Homo sapiens: one gene and its partners. The protein of the gene in region 2 interacts with the protein of the main gene of each other region in a pairwise test. Each region holds a gene or a part of one and is shown on either strand. Other genes may lie near its edges. The genes, in order: ALB, PPARA, TNP1 and FABP1.

Region 1 (7,690 bases), on a different chromosome or scaffold from region 2:
GTAGTCAAACTCATAGAATCAAAGAGTATAATGCTGGTTGCCAGTGGCTGGGGGAGGACGAAACGAGGGGTTACTAATCAATGGGCACAAAGTTTTAATACAGCAAGATGAGTAAGCTATACAACAGTGTACCCGTAGTTAACAATAATGGATTGTACACTTAAAAATATAACAGGGTAGATCTCATGTTAAGGGTTCTTACTATAATAAAATAAGATAAATAAATAAATAAATACATGCTATCATATCCCTATTAGCCTCTACAAAAAGAAACCAAACCTCAAATTTTAAAAAGAGGTGTTTATAAATGACAAATTGCCATTTAAATACACCATGACTGTTGTGTTTGGTCTCAATAAAGAAATGATTTTAAAACTGTGGACATAGCTAAAGCATCTCTATCACAAAAGAAACAATGGCTTATCAGTCTATGAGCAACTTTTTAGTGTTTCTTACAAATCAGGACACTTAATAATAATTGAGAAAACTTAAAAAAAATTCCTTTGAAATGCTTGGGATTACTTCAAACAGAAGAAAGAATCTCCACAATTAGAATGTACTTACAAGTGATTTGTCACAATTTTCAGCTGACTCATCAGCAACACATGTTTTTGCAAATTCAGTTACTTCATTCACTAATTTTACATGATCTTCAAATGGACACTGCTGAAGATACTGAGCAAAGGCAATCAACACCCTGAAACAAAGGATGTAGAAAAATGTAGTATAATAAAACTTTAATATGTAACAGGTTGCTACGCTAGAGAACAAATCATGTATGGGTATAGGTTCTATCTTTTATACATCTTCTTCACCATTATCCAGAAAGCCTATTCATATCAGGTATGATCTGAGGCCTAGATAGGCATATGTGGCTTCCTACGCAAAGAGAATGGTAGTTCCCTAATGTTTATATGTATGCGTGTGTCAGTAGATCTATGCACACACATAGATTAAGCAAGCAAATTGTATGCCAAATAGATCTAATTGTCAAGACTAGGCATTTTTAAAGTCCTTAGAATTACTTAAAACTAAAACAAACCCCACAGATTTCCTTTTTCTTTTTTGAGACAGAGTCTCACTCTGTCACCCAGGCTGGAGTGCAGTGGCACAATCATGGCTCACTGTAGCCTTGACCTCTCAGGTCCAAACGATCCTCCTACGTCAGCCTCCTAAGTAGCTAGGACTACAGGCATGTGCCACCATGCCTAATTTTTTTGTTTGTTTGTTTTGTTTTTTTTAAAGAGACTTGCCCAGGCTGGTCTTGAACTCCTGGGCTCAAGCAATCCTCCTGCATCAGCCTTCCAAAGTGCTGGGATTACAGGTGTGAACCACCGCACCTGATCCCCACACACGTCTTTAATTAGCCTGTAGGATTAGGTAGACTTTTAAAAAAACAATTTTCTCATTTTTTACTAGATTAAAAAACATTTAAATAGGCCGGGCGCGGTGGCTCACTCCTGTAATCCCAGCACTTTGGGAGGCCGAGGTGGGCAGATCACGATGTCAGGAGATTGAGACCATCCTGGCACACGGTGAAACCCCATCTCTACTAAAAATACAAAAGATTAGCCGGGCGTGATGGCGGGCGCCTGTAGTCCCAGCTACTCGGGAGGCTGAGGCAGGAGAATGGCGTGAACCCGGGAGGCGGAGTTTGCAGTGAGCCGAGATTGCGCCACTGCACTCCAGCCTGGGCGACAGAGCGAGACCCTGTCTTAAAAAAAAAAAAAAATTAAATATTCCCAACTAAGCACAGGAATGCTTGCTATGTAAAGAAGATTTAGTGGGTAAGCCACCAAAGGAAACCTATATTAAAGTCCTTTCCACCAAGCAAGTTCCAGAGCTGTACTGTCCAATACAGTAGCCATTAGCCACATGTGACTATATACATTCAAATTAACTACAATTAAATACAATTTAAGTTTTTGTTTCTCAGTTGCACTTGTCATATTTGAAGTACTCAATAGCCATGTGACCAGTGACTACCTTATTGGATAGCCCAGATACAGAATATCTTCCTCAACGCAGAAAACTCTACGAGGCAGCACTGTTTTAGAATCTGAACCCTGATGACAAGGAAATATAAGCACTTTAGAATAATAAACAACACTATTAGAAACATTAAATTTGATTCATCAATATTTTAACTTACAAGGCTTTGAAATTTTCTTCTCCCAAATCTTTAAACCGATGAGCAACCTCACTCTTGTCTGGGCAAGGGAAGAAAAAAAAGGATTGTTAAATACTGAAGAAAACAAGAAGTAATAATGTTACTTTTTATATTTCTTTCCATTTGACTTAGATTATGCATTTGTTTCAAAATATTGGGCTCTGATTCCTACAGAAAAACTCAGGATGATGTTCAATTATTTCTTCTGCCTTTAAACAGAAGAATAATTCAATTACCAAGAATACTATTTTAAAAATTATTAAATATTTATAGCCTTATATTCAAACTTAGATAATATCTAATACTCTTTTAGTGTCTATCAACAGCAACCAAGAAGACAGACTAAAATGAAAATAAATATAAATACAAGTTCTATTTATGAGATCAACAGCACAGGTTTTGTGGTTTTTAAATAAAGCATAGTGCAATGGATAGGTCTTTGGGATAGTTATGAATTCAATCTTCAACCCTATTCTGTGAAGTTTCAGTCACTCTAAGTTACTTTGCACTTTCCTTAGTGCGCAAAAGAAAATTACAGTCACTAAACAATTCTGACCTTTTTTTTTTTTTACCTAGGATGTTTGAATTTTATTAATAAGATAACCTTGTAAGACTTCACAAATACAAAATACTATGCCATTTTAGAAATAAATGCCAAAATAATTCTTTAAAGATGCAGAGTTTACTAAAACTTTATTTTACTGGGAAAATAGAATAAAAGTTGAACAATAGAAAAATGGATTTCTTACGTGCATCTCGACGAAACACACCCCTGGAATAAGCCGAGCTAAAGAGAAAAAGAAGGGAAATAAAGGTTACCCACTTCATTGTGCCAAAGGCGTGTGGGGTTGACAGAAGAGAAAAGCTAGGACAAACGGAGGGAAATTAGCACTAATATACTTCTTTAACCAATAATTGTAGATTATTAACTAGACTCATCTTTGTATTTCATTGGCTGCCAACCGATTACAAAATTCATAATATTCTTGCCAAAAAATTGTTTGACTAAATCCCTTGTGTATATTTACCATCTGGAACTGTTTTCTCCACAAGACCTTGTCAATGTATTAAAGTTGTGTAAAACATCTTATCAAATTTTACATAAGAGTTTAAACGATTTGTACCTTTTATTCATTACCATGGTATTTAACTGTAATTTCCCACTTGAACATTTTAGTTCTTGGTGTTTGCAATTTAGTTCTCAGTGTTTAGTAATTACTAACCAAACTAAATACTTTGCTTAGAAATAAGACATACTGAAAGAGTTAAGTCCCAAATTGCATCTATTGCTAATTCCAAGTGTGCTTTTACCTATAGATAATGAAAAATTTACACACAAGTACTCACGCATGCACACACACATATACATACATACATATTTTAGGGCTTCTGTGTCTTTTTTACTATTCCAAAGCCATTCTGTCTGAAAAAGCTGATGTTGCCTCAGATGCAAACTAAGAAAAAGACATAGCAACAATAACAAGTAAGATAGGACTTAGAAATTCCATGTTCCCATTCCTGCTGTGGCCCACATGTGATTCAAGCCCTGAGATAGGCTATTTAGATTCAGTGTGAGTATATCTCATGGGATCTTCAGTTAAGCAGAGATGGAGAGGAAAATGGACCCAAATGAGATGATGATTATCTTTGCCATAATATACAATAGGACAGGCTGACCCCAAATTCTCTGTAGGTTATGAGAACCCTTGACCTTCACCAGGCATAGGATTCTTTCCATCCCTGTTTCATATTTTTTTCCTTTCTCTCTTTCAATAAGTAGAAAAATCACATGTTCTTTTATGTTGCTTTAAATTTCAAAATAAATTTAACATTATGTCTAAAAACAAAGCGAAGGAAGAATAATTTTTTAAATATTTCATAAATCTTCCTTCCCTACCCAAGGTTCTTATCTCTACCTCAGAAAAGCTATCCTACCTCTGCCCTTTTGCTCAGAATATGAAGAACTACTGAGCTCAACCAGTAGGAAGAACAACTTTCTCTGATACTACAGAACAATAATTAGTACTAAGCCAGTTATTTTACTTAATTAAATAACTCAGTCAGTCAAAACCAGTAGTCAAATTTCCTCATGGCACATAGAGGCACAGAGACTAACAAAGTATTATTTTTTCTACTCAGTCTTATAATGAAAGAAAATTTTTTCTATTCAGTCTTACAATGAAAGAAATTATTTTCTATAATCTTATGTTATTTCTTCTTCAGAAATGGGTACTAATTAACTAATAAAGCACAGAAGAGGAAAAAATCAAAGCTAGATGGATGATAGATACATAGATAGATAGGAAGATTTTTTTTAATGACTCAAGGGAGTCCTGAAAGGAAATACCAGACTTGTCTTTCTGACTACAGATGAACAGACATAAAACAAGTGTGCCTATTTTCCATTGAAGAAAAACAAGCATTTTTTCTAAAGCCAGAAAAACCTACATCTGAAAAGAAAAAAGAAACTATTCTAAGTTAAGAAAATAATTCTTTCTTGGATAAATTATGTCAACTTTTAACTTCCTAGAAATTGTAGGCATTATTTATTAGAAGTCAGTAACCAACTCTAGCTTTTTCCTTGTAGAAGTCCCTGGGAAAGGCCTACCCAAACATAAAATCCTTACTGTTGAATACAATTGTTACTAATTGACAAATTCAGGCCTTTGTCACTCTCACATATACTTTGTGCATACTTTTTCATTTAACAAATGAAAAGAATAATATTAGTCCATTTAGTTTTCACCACAACATTATAATGTAATATATTGTTAAATACAAAGAAACCTAAAAAAATCTCAAATTCATCATGACTGAATAGAAACTTTGAATTGATTTTCCTATATCTAATGAAGAGCCCTAGCTTTAAAACAAAATTGATGAAACCTAAAAGAATCTTTTCTTTTTTTTTTTTTTTTTTTGAGATGGAGTCTCGCTCTTTCGCCCAGACTGGAGTGCAGTGGCACTATCTCGGCTCACTTGCAAGCTCCGCCTCCCGAGTTCACGCCATTCTTCTGCCTCAGCCTCCCGAGTAGCTGGGACTACAGGCGCCCGCCATCACGCCCGGCTAATTTTTTGTATCTTTAGTAGAGACGGGGTTTCACCGTGTGCCAGGGTGGTCTCGATCTCCTGACCTCGTCATCCGCCCACCTCGGCCTCCCAAAGTGCTGGGATTACAGTCATGAGCCACCGCGCCCGGCCAAGAATCTTTTCTTACAGTACTAATGAGGCATTTTGCATATGTGCATCCTACTAAAAGATTAATAGTTTAGAAATTAAAATATTTAATTCTCAATGATATCTGCATACTTAAAATTAATGTTTCTTAAGAAATACTTGAACAATTGCATCTTCTGGATTTGCAAAGTAAAAATTTCTGCATTTTTCTCTGAAAACCTCTGGCATTAATTCTATATGAACATTCTATACTGAGAGAAATAAACCTACATAATTGTTAGTCATTTCTAAATTTCCTGTTCTTCAAACTTTGAAACTCTGTTTAGTCAGTCATCAACGGGCTCTGGCATGAGGGTAAATGCAAATATTTAGAGTAAGAGTTATAAATATGGTTTAGAGATTCTCTTTACTCGGTAAACAGAAAAATAGCCCCAATGATTTTTAAATGTTTTCTCATCTTTGTGGGAGAAGTTTAAAAATAGAGAGTAGTTAAGAAAAGTATTTTCTTTAGAAAGAATAAGTGTACTGATCATTTAGAAAAGAAAAAAAAAATACCTCAATTGAAATGTACATATACCTGGGATTTAAACCTGAGCCTTTAACCCTTTTGTTCTTTGTTTTGCATTCACTTTGACGTGATACAAAAGGCACAGTTTTTAAGTAGATAAAATGTCTCTGAACCGGTCTCCCATTTTCCAGCCACTCTAACAGTAACTTTAAATCCGCACCCTTCTGCTACCCTCAGGACTCCCGAAGCTTCTCACTGAGTCATTCACACCAGGTTTGCCCTCCATCTAGCAATCCATTTAGTCCAGCTTTTATGCCATCTCCCACTCTGATAGGTTATATTTCTGACTCTTCTTCTCTTAAAGATAAAGGGAAACATATTCATGGAAATGTAATAATATCTAATAATATCCTCAATATTTTATAAGAGACTTTCTATAAACAACCACTTTACCCAGAGTCATTCCAAAATACAAGAAATTTGGATTTGTTTGGAGAGAAAATTGGGGACAGGAAAATCTTACCATTTTTCTACTATAAAATAAACATATGCAGATCCTTCCTATCATGAAGAGCTTGTATTACTCTCTACAAAATATGCAAGAGTGGAAAAGTGAAAGACTGTTAAGCATCAAACTAACCAATTGAAACATAATCAGTAATTTAACTTCTTATTCACTTATGGAGATACATTTCCCTCAAAAAAAGTTAGAATGAAAGTGTATAAACTTATATAAGTATTTCTAATGCAAATAAAAATGTATAAACATATAGGTATTCTAATGCAAATAAAAAATTGGAATATAATCCAAACAATTGCTCCCTTATTTCCCTCCATAAGCCATCCCCCCAGATATTCACTTGAATTAGTGAGAAATATGGAATTGGCTGAAGATTTCATAGGGAATGAGGAGAAAAAAGGTTATATCATAAAAACCACCCTAGGTCACCATCTTTGGCTTGTCCCACCTTTTAAGTCCCTCTGCCCCCAGATCTTCCATGATGAAAGAGTCCCTCTCCTTGACTTTCTTCATGTTACACTGGGCCTCTGGAATATATATACATTCGAATTTCCTAACCTTTTACTTTAAATTTCTCAGTTCTTCTCCGTGTGGTTTAATTCAGCTCAGTGTCAGTTTCTAGCTGCAGAACTGGACATGCAGATCTGCATATATCTCTATGCCATATGGGTCAAGTTGGACTAAATTATCTTTAACGATCCTTCTACCTTGAACATTCTGCAATTCCATGTTTTCAATGTGACAGCCTTATCAAATGAGAAAAGGACCTGAGTGGTAGGAAAGAATATATCAAGTTAGGCAATTAGGATTCAAGTTTGAGAGCTTGTTCATTCCTAAGCCTCACAATTGCTCCTCAAGTATTACGCTCTAGCTAGTTCAGCTTAATATTTTTAAAGAATAAAAAGTTCATTTAAACTTATTTAAACTATATTAATGAGACTTTCTCATATTTTTTTATCAAGTTTTTCAAGTGCAAGAAAAATATAGTTAATGTCTGCAATCCATGTTTATCCATTCTTAATAAATTAACAACTAATAGAATCTATAAACATATAAATTGAAATTAATACTAATCCTGTCTCATAAGGATAGCCACAGATGGAAATTAAACAGAAATGAATGCACTTTGAATCTATTCATATTCTATATTTTAAACATGAAATTCAAGAAACTTGTTACTTAAGTTTAAAGTTATAAAATTGAACTTTATCAATCTTCTATAAAACAACTAAGATTGTATAGCTAAAATAGTCTCATGTTGAAATTTTAGTGGATAGAGTTTAGAATGTTTTTATTAAAAGGTATTTTTTCTTCT
Region 2 (7,042 bases):
CACTTTGGGAGGCTGCAGAGGGCGGATCATGAGGCCGGGAGTTTGAGACCAGCCTGGCCAACGTGGTGAAACCCCATCTCTACTAAAAATACAACAATTTAGCCAGGCATGGTGGCGCGTGCCTGTAGTACCAGCTATGTAGGAGGCTGAGGCAGGAGAATCGCTTGAACCCAGGAGGCAGAGATTGCAGTGAGCTGAGATCGCACCACTGCACTCCGGCCTGGGTGACAGAGCGAGACTCCATCTCAAAAACAAACAAACGAACACCAATATAGATTTCTTATATTGGCATCCTGCTAAATACTCTTCACATTCTCTGTTCCCACGTGAAGCCTGGGACTTTGAAGGCATTGCTACTGCTCTGAATTGAAAGCTTCCACTTACAGCTTTCTGCTGGAAAGATCCCCGCCAGCTGCCACCCTTAGCTGGGAATGGGAGCCTGCTCCTCTGGGTTCAGTGCACCAGCCCTGGATCCGCACTTCCCAGCCCTTCGCTGGCGGTTCAAGACTGTGGTTTTCAGGCTGCTGCAGTGGTGGTCGGCGTCTTCCAGTCACAGCTTGTGATCGGAATCTCTGTCCCTACACTACTTCTGGGTGTACACACCTTCTTCCCTGGGTCTGGAAACCTCTCTCTTGGCTTCGGAGGAATTCACTAGGCACCCACAACCCACCCTCAGTGTCATTAGTCATCACTTGTCACGCAAGTTCTTTGAACGCTGTTAGTGCCAGCTTTTTCTCTCAAGGATCCTTGGCTTCAAACACATTTAAATACCCTCTCCCCTTCATGCCTCTCATTTTCCAAAGCCTTCTTCCCAGGATAGCCCTCTCCTTTGAGTCCCACCTTCAAGATCTTCGCATAATTGAACTTAAAAAATTCCCTCTTTCAGAACACCTTGCTGAATAGACTAGACTAGGCTTCTTTTTATGATTTGAGTATTACAACAATTGAGTGCCTTCCTTTCTGGAAAAGGCTAACAAAGCGAGTTTTTCTAAGGAAAGAAGAGAATGAAAATCGCGTTCTAAACTTTTGTGCACTTCTGATTGCTTGCTTGTGAATCACAGGGAAGCCGTGCAGAGATGGGAAGCCCAACCTCCCTTGCCTGTATCTGGTGACAGGTTCTGTAACAGTTGTCAAAGTGGGGGGAAAAAAACGACAATCGTACAACTCAAGCAAAATACGCTGCTTCACAAATTGTAAAGTCCAAGGACACTGTCAACAGGTCAAATACTGCCCTGCTTGTTTCTATTACAAAAAACTTTTACATACTAAGAGATGATTCCAATTTAAAGCACATTTCTAACTTCTCTGAGCATTTTTTTCTTTAAACATCATTTGTGTTAATTTCATCCCCAATGCACAGATAGAACAGAAGCCAGGTGTGGTGGCTCATGCCTGTAATCCCAGTACTTAGGGTGGCTGAGGCGGGCAGATCACTTCAGGTCAGGAGTTTGAGACCCAGCCTGGCCAACATGGTGAAAGCCCGTCTCCACTAAAAAATACAAAAATTAGCCGGGCGTGGTGGCACATGCCTACAATCCCAGCTTCTCAGGAGGCTGAGGTAGGAGAACCACTGGAACCCCGGAGGCAGAGGTTGCAGTGAGCCGAGATCACGCCAGTGCACTCCAGCCTGGGCAGCAGAGCGAGACTCCAGCCTCAACACCCCCGACAAAAAAAAGAGACACTATCCCAGTTGTCAAGCTGCCTCATAAAATGAGCTAAAATGAGACTGCAGTCTAGAATTTATCAAATTTACTCATAATCCTAGGCAGAGGGCAATATGTTCCTCATGTTAGCAGCCCACTCAATGTTATTTTGTTCCATGTGGAAAACTGCCTGAAAATGCTTCAAAAAATTCATCCCACTTAAATATCCCTATTACCATTTCTTCCATAGATAACAGAAGAAAACTTGTTTCAGATCATCAAGATTTGCATGTCACTTGATTGGCAATCTGTATTTTACAAGCCATATTGCTGAATTATAAACACGCATTTAAATACTCATGTAAAGCTGACCACGAACTTCTTAGAAAGGGACATATCCACGTGTCAACCTCTAAATAACTGGGTCTCTTTTACTGAAACTTGGCAATTTGTCACCTTGGCGTGGTTATCACATAACTTCAGACGTATTCAGTTACAAACAAATGCAAAAAAACTTGGGGCCTCACTCTTTTTTTTTCTGAGATGTGCAGTGGTGCGATCTCAGCTCACTGCAACCTCCGACTCCTGGGTTCAAGCAATTTTCCTGCCTCAGCCTCCTGAGTAGCTGGGATTACAGGCACCTGATACCAAGCCTGGCTAATTTTTGTACATTTAGTAGAGACAGGGTTTCACCATGATGGCCAGGCTGGTCTCAAACTCCTGACCTTGTGATCTGCCCACCTCGGCCTCCCAAAGTGCTGGGATTACAGGTGTGAGCCTCCACGCCTGGCCTCGCTCACTCTTAAAAATGAAAAATGAAAAATGAAAGGGGGTGGGGGAACTTCAATATTCTGCTTTACTATAGCCTCATCTCAAACCATTCCTATGAAGCTCATAATCTTGGAAGCCATTAGTCCTTCTGTATTTGCCTTCCTAACTCTTACTATTCAAAATGATGCTCTTTCGAAAGTTGGCTTGTGGTCTATAAGTTAAAATATAAAGCAAGTAAATCTGAATAGAAATCTTCACTCCTCTTTATCTGCAAATCTCTTAAAATGGAGCAAAATAAAAGCATTCCGATGAGTCCTGCCTCCTGGAACACAGACGATATTTCATCTGAGTTTTCTCCAATTTCTCCTGGGAATATTTTAATGTGACAGTCAGAGCAGGAGAAGGACCCTCACCTTGTTAAATATCAGTGCTGCCCACCTCACTTCCCTTTCACCATACCCCTTCCCTATGAAGTCAGTTGTGTTGAATTTAAATCCATGATCTTGCAGAAAGAAAGAGGATTTTATTTAAATAGATCCTCAGGTCATCTTATAAAAATTCTATTTAATCCATAATATACCCCAAATCTAGTGATGATTATGAAGGGGACCCTTTCAGCGGCAGCCCTCACCTTCCTAACACCGCTGTAATGGGAGGTACATATTGGACATCTGGAGGAAACACCTGCTCCCTACAGAAGGAAGAAGAGCTCTCTCTCAGTCTAGGTGTGGGGGAAGCTGCAGAGGTCTGGGACAATTTCGCTGCGGTGGGATGGAGCGGGCCATCATCCGTAGGTGCCGCTGTCTGCACTCCTGTTTAGGTGCCTCCCCCTTCAGCCAGCTCCCACCTACATCTCAGTACTGTGGTGACCACACAGGCCCATCAATACATTCTTCTTGAATTAAATTCTATTAATCAGGTACTTATTCAATGAACATTTACAAGTACCTACTCAGTTTACACGGCTAGCGGGGCAGAAATAAATAAGACATCCTCTCTGCCCTCAAGGAGTTAGACTCAGCGAGGACAGTCAGACTAACAGAAACAGGGGTGCAGGCAGCACCGGGTCCTGGCTTGACGGAACTGTGTCCAGGCATGGGGAGATTCACTGGGCCTGCATTTCAGCAGATCCCTCTTCAAGATGAAGAGGCCTGGTCCAGGTATGCCATGGAGTTGGAGTAAGAGCAAACACAAGGTATAGCCCTGCCAAAACCTGAGGTCACAATCACCTTCAAAACACACAGGAGGCCGGGTGTGGTGGCTCACGCCTGTAATCCTAAGACTTTGGGAGGCTGAAGCAGGTGGATCACCTGAGGTCAGAAGTTCAAAACCAGCCTGGCCAACATGGTGAAACTCCATCTCTACTAAAAATACAAAAATTAGCTGGGCGTGGTGGCGGGTGCCTGTAGTCCCAGCTACTTAGGAGGCTGAGGTGGGAGAATTGCTTGAACCCGGGAGGCGGAGGTTGCAGTGAGCCAAGATTGTGCCACTGCACTGCAGCCTGGGTGACAGAGTGAGACTCTGTCTCAAAAACAAAAACAAACACATAGGAACCACTTGTAACAACTTTATTGTACTGGTGGAGAAATCTCACTTTTATATTCCAAAATGAAAACCAGTTTTGGTGTATAAGGGGTACGGTAGCATGTTGCTTTCTGAAAGCCTTTGAAAAATCCTAAAATGGCCACAGTGAAAACAACACAGGTATCAGACCTGGCTAAGTGAGAAAGGCAGGAGCCAGCGGTATGTCCTCCTTCTTAAGACACCTCCTGAGATGGGCAGTTTTTTAAGCTGCCACTTCGAGCTTCACAGCCCTTCAGAGAGGTGGTATGGAGAGGAACTTCATTTTCTGATGAGAAAGCAGCAGTTTAAAGAAGAGAACAAAGGTCTCCAGGCCTGGCAGGCAGCAGCTAAGGGGCTAGAATCCAAATCTCATGATTAATGACCTAATACCTTTTCCACTATATCAAGCTGCTTTGCAGATACACAGCAATATTTCCAGATTTCCAACCACTTTTACCATATGTGAGCCTCAAAACCAACGCAGCTCAGCTGCAAAGATAACCATGATAGGTTGAGACCTGGCAAGGAGTAAGTTCTTTTCTTTTCAAATGCATAAACTTTTAAGACACCGTAATATCACTATTAAAAGATGCTAATTAAATATCCTAAAAGCAAAGAATGCACACACCTCTGAGTAACGAGCAAATCCGGTCCTGTCTGGAAAATATGCCTGCATGGTGCTCCTTTCCAAAGAAGCTCAGTGCATGCAAGCGGCAGAAATACTTGGAAAAAGAAGCACATTCTTTTAAACATGGGCCGCTGGAACAGCTAAGGCTTTCTCCTATTTGATTCTTACCTTAAACCCATCTTATCACCAAGTTGAAAATGTAAATTCTGTGCCCAAGTTTCCCTAACCACATGGCCTTAAAGGTGATCTAGCTTATTCTGGGCAATTCATAAGGCTGAAATGACAGACATAGCACATTTCTACCCCATAATCAGAAACTATACCTTTTTAAAAAGTATCTACAGCTGGGCGCAGTGGCTCACACCTGTAATCCCAGCACTTTGGGAGGCCGAGGCGGGTGGATCACCTGAGATCAGGAGTTCGAGACCAGCCTGGCCAACATGGCAAAACCCCGTCTCTACTAAAAATACAAAAAATAGCCAGGTGTGGTGGTGGGCACCTGTAATCCCAGCTACTGGGGAGACTGAGGCAGGAGAATCGCTTGAACCCAGGAGGCGGAGGTTGCAGTGAGCTGAGATTGCGCCACTGCACGCCAGTCTGGGCAACAAGAGCTAAACTCCGTCTCAAAAAAAGAAAAGAAAAGAAAAATGGACTCTATGCCAGGCTACCAAAAACAAATAAAAACAGAGACTCTCAAGTTCCAAAAAAGCAGAAATTAGACAGGCCACAACCTCTAACTGCAATGTGACAAAATTAGTACAAACATTAAAGAAAAACACTGACTACTTGGAAGTAAAGACACTCATCCTATTTGCCATTAAAAATATATCCATCCACACACAGAAACCAATAGAGCAAAAAAAGAGAAGAAAAATTGGCATGTTTCAAATATATTTATAATAAGCAAATACATATTTTAATTAATGTGGTTTTTTTTTTTTTTTTTTTTTTTTTTTTTTTTTTTTTTTAAAGAAAGACCACTTATGCCGGGTGCAGTGGTTCATGGCTTAGTCCCAGCACTATGGGAGGCCGAGGCAGGAGGATGGCTTGAGCCCAGGAGTTTGAGACAGGTCTGAACAACATAGCAAGACCCCGTCTCTGCAAAAAATACAAAAATGAGTCAGGCCTGGTGGCGTGTGCCTGTGGTCCTAGCTGCTTGGGAGGCTGAGGTGGGAGGATCACCTGAGCCCAGGGAGGTCGAGGCTGCAATAGGCCGTGATCATGCAGCTGTGCTCTAGCCTAGGTGACACAGTGAGACCCTGTCTCAAAAATAAATAAATAAATAAATAAAATTAAAAACACTGCTTAAAGATGATTACATAAATATTTATTTATTTTTTGAGACCAGGTCTCACTCTGTCACCCAGGCTGGAGTGTAGTGGTGCCATCTCAGTCACTGCAACCTCCACTTCTCAGGCTCAAGGGATCCTCCCACCTCAGCCTCCCAAGTAGATGGGGCCACAGGCACACGCCACTATACCTGGCTAATTTTTGTATTTTTAGTAGATGCAGGGTTTCGCCAGGTTGCCCAGGCTGGTCTTGAAGCCCTGGGCTCAAGCAATCCATCCCCTTCGGCCTCACAAAGTGCTGAAACCATAGGCGTGAGCCACTGCGCCCAGGCTACTTAAATATTTATTTAAAAAACAGACTCTCCAAAACAGCATGCAAGAAAAAGAACACTGGCCACCAATTACTAAAGAGTAAGATGTCCCGGCAAAAATAGGTTCTTCATCTTTTACCATGATGAGGATTATCTTTAAGTTTCTTTTTTATATTCTGGTATGAAAATCAGTTTCATGGATTCATGCTTGTCTTGTTCAGCACTGCGGACAGTAGCCCACAGCAGCTACTCAGTCAATATTTATAGAATGACTGTATTAAATATATACACATAAAGAGATTGGCTAAATATTATTGTATCTAAACACAATGGGATATTATATAGACATTTCAAATGATGCAGAAATGTTTTTCACATAGGAAGATTTTTCATAACCTACTCGATAAAGCAAGTTACAAAATAGTGTATAAAGAAGACACATTTTCTCCTTCTTCTCTGTCTAGTTCTGTCTCTCTCATATACAATTTTTTTTTTTTGGAAACGGAGTCTTGCTCTGTCACCCAGGCTGGGGTGCTGTGGTGCCATCTCAGCTCACTGCAACCTCCACCTCCCGGGTTCAAGAGATTCTCCTGCTTCAGCCTCCTGAGTAGCTGGGACCATAGGCACCCGCCACCATGCCCAGCTAATTTTTGTATTTTTAGTAGAGACAGGGTTTCACCATATTGGCCAGGCTGGTCTCAAACTCCTGATCTTGTCATCTGCCCACCTCAGCCTCCCAAAGATTACAGGTGTGAGCCACCGCACCCGGCTGATACACAATTTTTAAAACTCTGTTCATAAGTTTGACAAACAGGAGCTAATGAAAACCACTGCAGT
Region 3 (5,239 bases), on a different chromosome or scaffold from region 2:
TCTCATCACTTCCACTGTTACCAATAGGATCCTTTACAAAGAACATGTTGGTCTCTGTTCAGAAGGTGTTCCCATCTCTTAGCCTGCTAATACTGCCCATATGATCAATGAATTAAGAGCTTCTAAGAGCTCCTCCAGGTGATCTCTATCTCCGGGCCAAGTCTTTAGATTTAGTTTAGCTTTCAACACCTCTATGCTATAAGCTCTGACGAAAACAGCTTGCATCCTTTGGTTTAAGCTCTAACAAAAACAGCTTGAATCCTTTGGTTAATGCTAATGAATGCATTTCTCCCTTTTTTATCTCTTCTCCCTTTCCATGTTGAGGAGAGAGACAGCACACTGGGATGAAGACAAATACGGCAATAGTGTGTGGCCAGAGTAGGACCACCTCCCACGGTGGTGGGAGGGAATTGGAGGACAAATTACTTTTGATATTTTCCAAGTCACATTTAATGGTTTCATACTGGCCAATTCTTCCCCAAACCCACCTAGCTCAGGAACTCAAGTCTTTCCAACCAAAAGATCAAAGTAAACATTTCTGCTTTCAAAGTTTTATTGAGATGTTGGGGAAAAACAGCCAACATATACATTCCTCATTTCGTCACAACTGGCATTTGATCCACATTCCATAGGCTCCTCTCTGGCTTTGATCTAACATCAGGTCTCCTTGGCAGTTCCCCTTCTGCTGTTCTTGTTGCTGCTTGGTGCTGTGTGAAGCGCACCAGGGCAGAGCCCGCTGGGGGCTCACAAGTGGGAGCGGTAATTGCGATTGGCTGTGGGAAAGGACAGGTTTGCAACAGAGACACGAATTAGAACATTCCCATCAAGACTCTTGTTGCTCAAATCTGCATTTAGTTATTGGAAATAATCTCAGGCCAAGATTTCAGGGTCCTGTGAGAGCTGCCTCCAAGAGGGAGGGCCTGGCAGCAATGTGTGCCTAAGTTTGGCAATCTCCTCCCCATCCCTCACTCACCGTCATCGCCCCGTTTCCTACTTTTCAGGTTGCCCTTACGGTATTTTCTTTTGCTGCCACCTCTCTTGACTCCCTTGTGAGGAGATCGGCTCTTGCTCCTCCTCATGCCATGACTCTTTAATTTGCGGCTGGTCGACATGGTAAGTTCTGCCAAAATGAGGGGCTTTGCAAGGCCCGGGGGCCAGGAGTCTGGGTATTTAAGGCCTTGGCCATTGTGACAGGGAAGGGGCATGGCTCAGCAGGTGGGCGGGGCTCTACTGTGCTGTCACTCACCTTTGCTGCACTTTGGTCACATTTGTGAAATAAGGTGGTCCTTTTCGTGCAGCTCAAGGGCTGCCCTCAGTTTTGAGGTCCTTTTTATGTTAAGTGAGGCTTTCCCAGAGAGGTGTTATTGAGAAACTGAATCCCAGCCCTGTGCCAGGCATTGGATGAGTACAAGAGACCATTCAGATATGCTTCTCCTGCCTGTAGGAAATGTAACAGTCATTGAGTGTGTGTGTATGCATGACTGTTTAAGTCTCTCACAGCATCCAGAGATAATAAATTTATTTCTGTAAGGACTTGACTCTACAGAACCCAATTCAATATGATCAAAATAGAAATATTCCTTCTTTTTCATCTAGGTCAGGATTTCTCAGTCTTGGCACTGTTGACACAATGGGCAGGGTAACTTTCAGTGGGCTGTCTTGTGCACCCTAGGATGTTTGGCAACATCCCTGGCCATTACCCACTGGACACCAGAGAAGCCTGGCAGCTATGACAACCCAAAATATTCCCAAACATTGCCACCTGTTTCTTTGGGAGGCTGGGGAAGTGAGGGAAAAAATGGCTCTGGTTCAGAACAATTAACCTAATCATTTTTTAAAATTCAGTCACAGATATTGATCACATAGCATATGCCATACATTTAGGTGGTAGAAAATTAGTGGAGGATAAACACACGTAGATACTGTGCTCATGGAACTCTCAGCCCACTGGGGAGAAAGCCATTCATCAGATGTCTACATAAATCAGTGAGTAAGTACTTACGGAGTCATTTTGGCTGGAGAAGGGCAGAGGGAAACTCCCTACATGGTACAGGATGAGGCTGGAGGGAGAGACAGAGATCAAACCATGATCAAGTACATTGGGAAGCCTTTAAAAATGTTAAGAGGATGGCATGTGAGATTAGAGGGTGCCAAGTGGGTGATGTATTGACTGGAGGAGCTGTGTAAAGGGAGATGCTACTGTCAACATCAATGGTTCAGCAGAGAGAAAGATTTGATGATGGTTTAGGTCTGGCCAGGAAAGGTGTTGATTGAGATCTAAAGTAGACAAGAGACCAAGGCTTGGTGACGGATTGAATTTGGGAGGTGAAAGCAGATGGTGTCAAGGGTGTGGCTTTTGTTTCTGTATAATGCAGTTATCTGGATGCTGGTGCCATTCATGGGGATAAAGGCCAGACATGGGGAGAGTGATGATCATGTACTTGGTATAAGACATACCAGCTTTGAAGTGCCTTTGACACTTACAAATAGATATATTGAATGATTATTGGTGTATAAGTCATCCAGCCTTTCCTTTTTCCTCCATTACACCTCATAGTAAATGCTTTGCTTTTGAAAATGTTTCTTTCTTTTTTTTTTTTTGAGACCGAGTCTTCTCTTTTGCTCAGGCTGGAGTGCAGTGGCACAATCTTGGTTCACTGCAACATCTGCCTCCTGTGTTCCAGCAATTCTCCTGCCTCAGCCTTCTGAGTAGCTGGGATTACAGGCGTGTGCCACCATGCCTAGCTAATTTTTGTATTTTTAGTACAGACAGCGTTTCGCCATGTTGGCCAGGCTAGTCTTGAACTCCTGATCTCAGGTGATCTGCCCACCTTGGCCTCCCAGAGTGCTGGGATTACAGACGTGAGCCACTGTGCCCGCCTCATTCGGATTTCTATAGAACTTGTTTGCTATTTCTTCCATTTGTCTCTCCTCTCTCCATTGTCATTACCCTCATTCAAGAACTGAGCATCTTGTATGCAGGAGATCCTTAGCAAAAGTTGGTTGAATAGAAGAGCGAAAGTAGTTCAAGTCCCACTCCCTGGTTTTCTGATATCTATAGATGGCAAATTGAGTTTTGAAACCCAGATTCCTTGTATAGCCACCATATGTGACACTTTCCATTTTCCTGCTTCTGGGCAGGTCTCTCTGGAGACCTTCTATTGGTGACTTGTTGGTGACTTTTATTCACATGAAGAAGTTCTATAAAACAGGCTGCTGGCTTGCTTGTTGGTAGTCCAGACCTTCTGCGTCCACTCAAGGCTGGTTGTTTCTCCTACAAACATGCCCCCATGAAAGCAGGGACCTCTGTGAAAGCAGGAATTGAGAAATTGGGCTCACTACTGAATATTCCCTGGGAGTTCATCAGTCCTGCCACAGAATAGAAGCTCAGTAAGTATTTGTGAAATACATTTGGTCAATGAATAAAAAGTCCTTCTTTTATTTTTCTAACTATCCTGTTCCTTCCCATTTTGCCCCACATCTCTAAGGAAGACTTCCCAACTTATCAAATTTTCACTGTCCTTTGAAACTTCTTCAAAGTTTATTGTCTGTATAATATTGGCTTTAAAGTCTAGACAACCAACCCTAATTGTGTGAAATCATGTTTTATGCCTGCATTGCCAGCCATGTGTGTTAGACTGGTTTCAACAGGAGGTGGTGTGTCTTCATTCTGGTCCTGACTGGACTTCTCTGGTCGTTAGCTCCCTTATTCTAAAAATAAGCAGATTGGGCTAGGTGATCTCTGAAATGATCTGACTTTGGCGATAGCCTCCTTCTCGTTAGGGACTGTACCTTTTATTTCTACTGCATTTTCCGCAGGTACTAGCATGGCCCACACTAGGTGGTCAGTAAATATTTGTTCAGTCTAGCTGCTTTGGTATATTATGAGGACAGACAGTTCAACACAATCACAGTGACTTTGCATAAGTGGGGCCATTTCAAGGCAGGGAAGAGAGAAGACATTGTCCTCACAACAGGTCCTCTGGTGCTCTGTGTCCACCTCTCATGCCTGAAACCATTGGCTAAAATGTTTACAGAGGAACTGGCCTCTTTGGTTTGAGAGACATTTTTCTGGATGGTCCTGAAGGCTGGATACTATTTCTCTCCCCAATCCCTCCCACCCCCAAAAGATCTGCTCTGCCAAGGAGAAGCTGAGATCACAGGGAAGAAGGCAGCCAGACTCGGGAACTGATGAAGAAACAAACAAAAAAGTCCCCTTTGCCTAGAGTTGAGGAGCAGTTCTGGTTCCAGACACCCATGCTGAGAAACTTAAGCAGCAGAAAACCCAGTGGGGGACGGGGAAGGCGATTCACAGGCCACTCAAGAGTGGGGTGTGGGGGGTGTTTGGGTTGGCTCCTGTATCGGACCTCCTGGAGTGAGGATGGAGCAGGGCTGAGCGTTGGTCTCTGCTGCCTGTCTCTGTTTCTCTTCCCATTTCTGCCCCAGTGTTGCTCAAGCTAGCAGCAATTTAGATAGAGCCTAGTGAGCTACTTCTAACCTTTAGCAGGTCCAGGATGAGGCCCTTCCTTGAGAATCATCTGTTAATCCAGTCTGCTCCCTGTCTCACCATTTTGTTTTTTTCTGCTATCTTTGCACAGAGAGGACATATGAGTGACTTCAAATAACTCAGCATAGGACTAACAGGGACAGCCCCATAAACCTGTTTCCTTTACACCTTAGCTTCCCTGGTGGGACTCAGCTTTTTTTTCCCTTAATGAAAGGAAACGACTATGTTCTGAACATTTTTGGCACAGAAAGAGAGAGAGCTAAATTCCTGGCCTTTTGAGAAGAGACACTATCAGCCTTTTCTTTTCTTGGGGCTCAGTGAGTTCTTGCCTGGAGAAAGGTAAATGGACAGGATGGTGTCTGTATCTCCTAGACGGGTAGCTAGGGTTACAGTGCAGGAAAGGGCTTGGAGGCCAGTGCTCTCACTGGTCCCTTTCCTAGGCTAGGAGGGGTAGCCTTAGGGTGTCACTGTTTTGGAAGTCAGATCTCTAGTTAGATTCCATGTCACTTCTCCAATTCAAACTCACTCCATTAATTTTCCCGGGGAGTCCAGTGGATGCCTTCATAGGGCCGGATCTTCCCAGCAGGCTGAGACTTGGGGCTTATGAAGAGGGAACATGGAAAAGTTGCTGACAGTCCTTATACCTGTCGATGACTCAGTCTGAATCCCTCTCTGAAATCTAAGTCTCTCCAGATGCTGACCTCGGCTGGGAAGTGGGGACCTTTTACCCAG
Region 4 (6,845 bases), on a different chromosome or scaffold from region 2:
ACCTGCACGCTGCCCGTCTGAGTAGGGATGTGAGAAGAGGGGATGTCTAGTGTGGAGTGAGCAGGGCCAGAATCTTTGGACACTCCAAAGCTGTGCCCACAGAGTGGGAGTCTCTTTTTTTCTTTCTTGAAAGCCACTTGAACTTTGTCATTGCAATTAAGCTTATCTCTTCTTGTGTTTGCTCAGCTAGTGGGTGGAAGATGTCATTACCCTCTCCTAACTTTATGGAAAACTCATGAGTATTAGTTTTTGAAATGGCTACTGATCTCTGTGCCCTCAAGATTCACACACACACAAAAAAAAAAGACAAAGGGAAGTCATCGGGGGTTGCCTAAGAATGGCCATATCTCAGACCTGGGGGAGAGGGGGAGTCCTGGCCTGGCGTTGATCAGCTCAATTTACTTGTCAGGCTGCCCATCTGCCAGGGAAACTGTCAAGGCTTCACTGGTTGTGCCAGGCCCTTGACCAACCTCTGGGTCAGCTGCATTCCCAATGCTGTTCTGAGTCTGCAGGCGTTGCCTGGACAGGGTAGGCAGGAAGTGCAGGGTGAGGCAGAGTGGTCCACAAGGAGACAGCTCATGGGTCCTGCTGTTCCTCAGACACCAGGAAAGGTGCACCTGGTCCCTACTTCACCTGAGGCCTCCGGGGTTGGTGCTGACTTGCTCTATGGAGAAGCTTTCATGACGCTCCTTCCCACTCCCCTCCGTAGATCCCAGAAAGCAGCAGTGTGGGGCATGATACTTGACATTTGCGATCAAGGGGAGAGGGCCTAGTTGTGGAATGTATAAGCCAGACATCCCTTTATCTGAGCGGGATGTCAGGCAGGCAGCTGGGGGCATGAGATAACATGGGCACTTGGAGCAGATTCTCCCAAACGAAGCAACTGATGGGTGTGATGGGAGTTGGGCATGGTAATGACTCTATCACGGTCATTTTCCTCGGTGATTATTTCATTGATTTTAGGCTGCAAAACTCCTAAGCTCCCCATCTAAGCAAGTGTTTACGTATTCCTTCCTTGACAAATGCTAGAAGAGCTCTTTAGGTAGGTAGTGAATAGGATCTCAGGTATAGAGCTGAATTTAGCCCTGGGCTGAACCTTCACATGGTCATTAGACAGACATATGCCAGCTATTGGTGCAGGCTTTAGGTGTCACATGTAACCCAGATGGGATCTAAATAAAATGACCTTGAATTCCTCCAAAGCCCTTCCTAGGATGTCTAGGGACCTGGGGAACCCTGTAGGGAATGCATCCCCACAGACACTCCACTTCCTGGTACTGCTTCTGCATGTGCCATCTCAGCCTCATCACATCCATCCAGAAATAAAGCTCAGCCTTGCATCATTTTCCACTTGCTCACATATTGATTCAGGCACTATATTTTACTGAAGCTTTTGAAATAGTTGGGGTGGAAATTAAAGAAAGATGGATGGGGATTCACTGCAGCAAATGAGCAGCTTCAAAGCCAATGCCATCCTGGAGCTCTTCTTGCCTTGCGGTCACTGGGGGTATCTCAGTGACCCATCACCCCATGCCCTCTTGGTGGCCTCTCTCCTGCCTGCCTGCCACATTCCTCTCTCTCCTTTCTGCAGTCTGGGGGAGGGACAGGAAGACACACCCAGCCTCTCCTGGTCTCCTGCATGAGGGAGCTGCCCTTCTCTTCACCAGCTTGGCTCTCGCTGACACACGGGTCTGAGGTCTGGGGTCTCACACACTCTGTCTCCCAGGCAGCTAATCCAGTCATTTACACACACACACACACACACACACACACACACACACACACACTAGGAATTCTCATGCCAGTTCTTAAGACAATGGATTTTTTACTTCCTTACATATACAAAAATGAAAAATCAGCATCCCATCTGGAGACCAGGGTCTAATATGGACCCCTTTAGTACAATAGACATGTTAAAAGATGTATAATCAAAGCTCAGAGCAAGATGAGAGAAGGACTGTGGGTGTGCCCATACTTCTTTGAGCCACCTCGCCCCTTCCTGCCCGCTGTTCAGGTAGTCGTGGTGATTATAAAAAGCCATAAGTTCTCAGCATGCAGGCCCACTTCGCTTGCTGCAGGGACAGCCCCAATTCATGGCCTGGGAGGCACCTTGTGTCCTAGACACTGTCAGAGGAGGGCCAAGCAGGGAGGGCCAGAGCACCCCTCTGTGCTGGAGGGAAAGGTCTGCTGGTGCCAGAATCTGCATGGCAGGACACTCCATTAGTGAGTGTTCTCTGCCCACACTGCTCCAAAGGTGAGGACCTCCCTGTGGCAGGGTACACCTTAACACCACCTGTCAGGGATGCTGTAGAAGGACCCTGGCACTGGGACTGTGGGTGGAGGAGAGAACTTCTGAAGTGCTTTGCTGGATCAACATGTCCAAATGCTGGAGACCACGGAGGGCAGAGAGAGTGGCATGGACGCCCCCGATGTGTCCACTTGGCCCTGTGGCTGGAACTGTGGCTTGAGGAGAAGGAAGGAAAAAGGATGGAAAGGTAGACTGGAGTTGCCTTTTGAGGGCTGGCAGCCCTGCTAGAAGTTTAGGCAATGGGAGTCATTTTCCAAGCCAAAAATTAGAACTCATGATAGGGACATGGAAGTGTTATTGGGGGTGGCCATCATGACCCGTCACGTGACACTAGGCCATCCAGGACCTGTGGCCTCTGAAGTGATGGGAACCACTGAGGCTCATGCCTGGAGCAGTGGCCCGACTCAGCCTATGCTTCAGGATGATCTGTCTAACCACAGAGTAGAGGAGGCCCAGAGGATGAAGGCTGGAGGCTGCAGGTGAAAAGGTTGACGCCAAAGTCCAGACAAAGAAGGGAGAGAATCTAGGGGTGAGGGGGTGCTTGTAAGGAGCTGCCTCAGAGGCAGGAACTGGGACGTGCACCCATTGGGCACCACGCCTCTCTGTGCTTCACAACAAACTGGCACATCCCAAGGCCACTGGAAGCCCTGCTGGGCCATCTCCCCAAGGCCAGTGCTGTACACATAACCCTACAAGACCAGTTTCCTACACATAACCCTACAAGACCAGTTTCCTACACATAACCCCAGATCCCTTGTCCTGTCTTCTCAGTGGGGCTGGAGCAAGTCAGCAGGTGCCACTTTCTCCTGCCTTGTCTCTGCCTAATAAAATGCGTCTCAATGTTTTACACCTGCCATTTAGCATGGACTGCTTTAACACCTCAAAAAGGCCTGTGGAGGAGCCTATAATCATCAAGGAGGAATTCCCAGAATACAAAATAACACTAGCGGCTGATAACAACTCTAAAAAATAAGTTTGTGTAATAATGGGGGTGAGAAGAGATCATAAGGTTATGTAAATAAGGTGAGGTTTTGAGTTCAAAGGAATTCTCTGGTATTTTTCTGTGTGTGTACACATGCACCCACACACTTGTGTGTATATGTGTACAGACATATATAAACACATGCATATAATGTGTATATATGCATTACATATATGCACATTCATACATCTTTATGTACAAAATACATATATGTATATATAAACACCGATGTACAAACACATACGCACACATCTATATACATACACATGTGTGTGCACATATACACATACCTGCATATACACACATTTCGTGGGGTGCGGAGAGTCACTTAAAGGCTGCAGGGCCATAAGGCTTCCTGCTTGACTGATATTCATTAATGTTTGCTGAATTACAGCAAACCTTTGCTGTGCCCATCCTGTTCTTTATCATTGACCATTGCTCTCAGGAGTTAATGTTTGAACCTGGCCATAAAGGAATCAACAGCTGCTGACCTCTGGCCGCTATTCGAAGGGAAGGGAGCCCCCTATAAAACAGCCTACAGTGGACAGTCTGGTCGGCAGAGCCGCAGGTCAGTCGTGAAGAGGGAGCTCTATTGCCACCATGAGTTTCTCCGGCAAGTACCAACTGCAGAGCCAGGAAAACTTTGAAGCCTTCATGAAGGCAATCGGTGAGTGCTGGACTGAAAGGCAAAGCTGTGGGTCACATCAGTGAGGGTCTAGCTCTACCAGCAGTGGCTATTTAGGGTCCAAATGTTGAGATGGGGGGAGAGATTCAGGCTATATACACAAACTAGGGGGCATTTTACTGACTTCTGGAGTTATTTGCAGCAAGTCCTCACTGCACAAGGCCACCCCATAGGCAAGTGGAAAGAGCACTGAACTAGGGTGTGGTCTGGATTGATGGCCATGTCATTGGCACTTCGTTGTGTGATCCTATTCCTGCATTTATTCATTCTTCAAACAAACAGTGATTCAAGGCCAACCACACACTGAGCACTGTGCTGGATAGATACCAGGGAGACAGATGATAAAGGCAATAAGGCATTTTCTTATCAGGGAAGAGAAGAGAAGAAATAAAGGTAATAAGGCATTCCCTCAGGTGTATGGAGCGCTGACTGTGCCAGGCGACTGTGCTGACCATGGGATATGCAATACCCCATCTATTCCTTGCCAAAAAACTAAGCTGGGTACCATTATTTTCCCACTTTACAGTTAATGCAACTGAAGCCCAGAAAGGTTTAGTAATCACAAGCAAGGTCATGCAAGTAGGAAGTGTTTAAGTTAGGATTGGAAGCAGGCACTGGTTCTCAGAGACCCTGCTTTAACCCCTGTGCCTCCTAGGGTCATGTACAGGAGGATGTGGCTCACAGAGAGCATGGGGGGATGGCTCAGTGGAGGTAAAGAGAAGGCTCAGGCTGAGCTTTGGAAGACAGGTGTCTAGGGAACTGGGGGCAGGGAGCATGCTCCAGGCAGAGGGAGCCCTATAAGCAAAGGGTGTGGCATGGCAAGGGAGGGTGCCAAGAATGAGAAGGGTGCTGAAGACAGCAGGGGCAGGGAGAGAAGGACCTTCAGTGCTGCCAGAGAAGGATCTTCTGCAGGCAAGCCATACCACCTCTGTGTCTCTCATCTCTCCCTCATGCAACAGGACCCTCTGTGCTCACTGTCCACCCACAAAATTTTTGTGAACCTCAATTTGTATAACAGCATAGACAAGTTCTGAAACTGGTAAAGCTCTATCCCAGGGCAAGGGATTGCTGGTATGTCTTCCTCCAGAGCCTTGACTGCAGAGGTGGACACAGGCTTGCCTGGCACAGTGCCGCTTTGTGTATGTTGGCCTGGCATGATTATCAGCAGCTCCCCTTTCACTTGCAGGAGGGACCTAGCTTGGAAGATCAACTCTCTGGTCACCAGGGGTATGGGGAATGAAATGCTCACACTCCAAGAGCAAAGTCATCAAAGGAGGAGGGAATGAGGAAGGAGAGTGAGCAAGAACCAGGGTGCTTACAAGAGGAACGGTTCTTCAGGCCAGAAGAGTGTCCTTTTTATAAATTGACTGGCAAGATAGCAGCAGGCCAGGCCAGGTCACTGTCCCTTCCTTTCTGAGGCCACAGCCGATGCTGCTGACAAGCCCCCAGTGAGTTTCTGTGGCCCCTTGGGAGACACAGTGCCCTTCTCTGTCCCTCCATGTCATGTCGTTTCTCTCACCTACCTACCACGGTCATGAAACTCCCACCTCTGCCCATATCTAAACCTCAGACGGTTTCCACCAGGTCTGCCGGAAGAGCTCATCCAGAAGGGGAAGGATATCAAGGGGGTGTCGGAAATCGTGCAGAATGGGAAGCACTTCAAGTTCACCATCACCGCTGGGTCCAAAGTGATCCAAAACGAATTCACGGTGGGGGAGGAATGTGAGCTGGAGACAATGACAGGGGAGAAAGTCAAGGTAGGAGGGCATCCCTTCTGCTGTCAGAACTTTCCTTGGAACCTGGCCCTGGGACCTCATTCCTCAAGGCTCAAACCTCACAATTCCACCCACAGATACCATCTCTGAACCCACCTCCCATGTGGGAGAAGCAGAGAGACAAAGGCAGCTCTTAGGGAAGAATCTTATAGAGAAGCTGCTCTCCTCTTCCCAGGGACTGTCTGGGGGGTGTTCCAGCCCCTAAAGTCTGAGCTCTCCCATATGGAGGATATGGGAGAACCAGGCATACAGCAGGATTCTAAGTCTCAGGTTCTCCCAGGCCCAGTGCTCCTAGCACTAAGAGTCCTCTAAGCAGGGCCCAGGAGTGGGGCAAGTGGGAGTTTGTGAAAAACCCTTAACTGAGCCCAAAGTCAACTGGCCTTCACTGAACCTAGAGCTGGTGGTGATAGGGAGAGACTTCTTGAAGGAGGTGCTAGCAATACCAGAATACCAGGGCCCCAGACAGGTGCTCAGACCCTGCCTTCAGGGGTGGTCACAAAGTCTCTGGCTTCAGCCACCCCATCTGTAAAATAAGAACAGTCAACCTCCCTAGACTGAAGGCAGTGCAGGGCAGCATCACTTCTGCTGGGCACAACTCATGGTGTGCAATGACAGCTGGGGTGTGGGCTGTGTGAGTGGTTGGCAGATGGTGGCAGGGGGATCCTGGCAATGGGGGTGCCCGTCTCCTCCTCCCTCTGAAACACTCCATGCTCTAGCAGCCCTCTTCTCTCCTCCCCGTGGACAGCTCTGTTCATTGGGCTGGGCGTGTTTGCTTTTTATCTCTTCTGGTCACTCTTTATTTCTGCCTCTCCAATTAGAACATTACAGGTCAGGATGATTTTAGGAGGATAATATTCTTGATGTGCTCATGGTCAAGGGATTTAACTATGGGCCTTTTCCAAATTTTCTTTTTGGAGGCAAAATGTTTAATGTTGCCCAGGGTCTTTGGCTCCCTGCTGGGTTCCTGTCATCTCTTCCAGGATGTATAAGGGCTTGGAAGGAGGCCACAATATGAAAAGTTAACGCTCTGGGAAGAATAATACATACCTGGTTGGGCGGGTGGCTCATGCCTACAATCCCAGCACTTTGGGAGGC

Evidence for each region.
Region 1: the proteins of PPARA (region 2) and ALB interact in binary tests that used the Homo sapiens proteins (3 or more experiments, as listed by UniProt).
Region 3: the proteins of PPARA (region 2) and TNP1 interact in a two-hybrid assay, tested with the Homo sapiens proteins (one study listed by BioGRID).
Region 4: the proteins of PPARA (region 2) and FABP1 interact in a two-hybrid assay, tested with the Homo sapiens proteins (one study listed by BioGRID).

Annotation. Positions count from the first base shown.
Region 1 is NC_000004.12:73,399,636-73,407,325, reverse strand, and holds the start of ALB (albumin preproprotein), read right to left. Parts: upstream 3,040-7,690; 5' UTR 2,999-3,039; coding exon 2,920-2,998; intron 2,211-2,919; coding exon 2,153-2,210; intron 698-2,152; coding exon 565-697; intron 1-564. UniProt on the Homo sapiens protein: Binds water, Ca(2+), Na(+), K(+), fatty acids, hormones, bilirubin and drugs. Its main function is the regulation of the colloidal osmotic pressure of blood. Major zinc transporter in plasma, typically binds about 80% of all plasma zinc.
Region 2 is NC_000022.11:46,153,520-46,160,561, reverse strand, and holds part of PPARA (peroxisome proliferator-activated receptor alpha), read right to left. Parts: intron 1-7,042. UniProt on the Homo sapiens protein: Ligand-activated transcription factor. Key regulator of lipid metabolism. Activated by the endogenous ligand 1-palmitoyl-2-oleoyl-sn-glycerol-3-phosphocholine (16:0/18:1-GPC). Activated by oleylethanolamide, a naturally occurring lipid that regulates satiety.
Region 3 is NC_000002.12:216,858,923-216,864,161, forward strand, and holds TNP1 (spermatid nuclear transition protein 1), read right to left. Parts: upstream 1,143-5,239; 5' UTR 1,113-1,142; coding exon 974-1,112; intron 774-973; coding exon 745-773; 3' UTR 536-744; downstream 1-535. UniProt on the Homo sapiens protein: Plays a key role in the replacement of histones to protamine in the elongating spermatids of mammals.
Region 4 is NC_000002.12:88,125,063-88,131,907, reverse strand, and holds the start of FABP1 (fatty acid-binding protein, liver), read left to right. Parts: upstream 1-3,845; 5' UTR 3,846-3,890; coding exon 3,891-3,957; intron 3,958-5,559; coding exon 5,560-5,732; intron 5,733-6,845.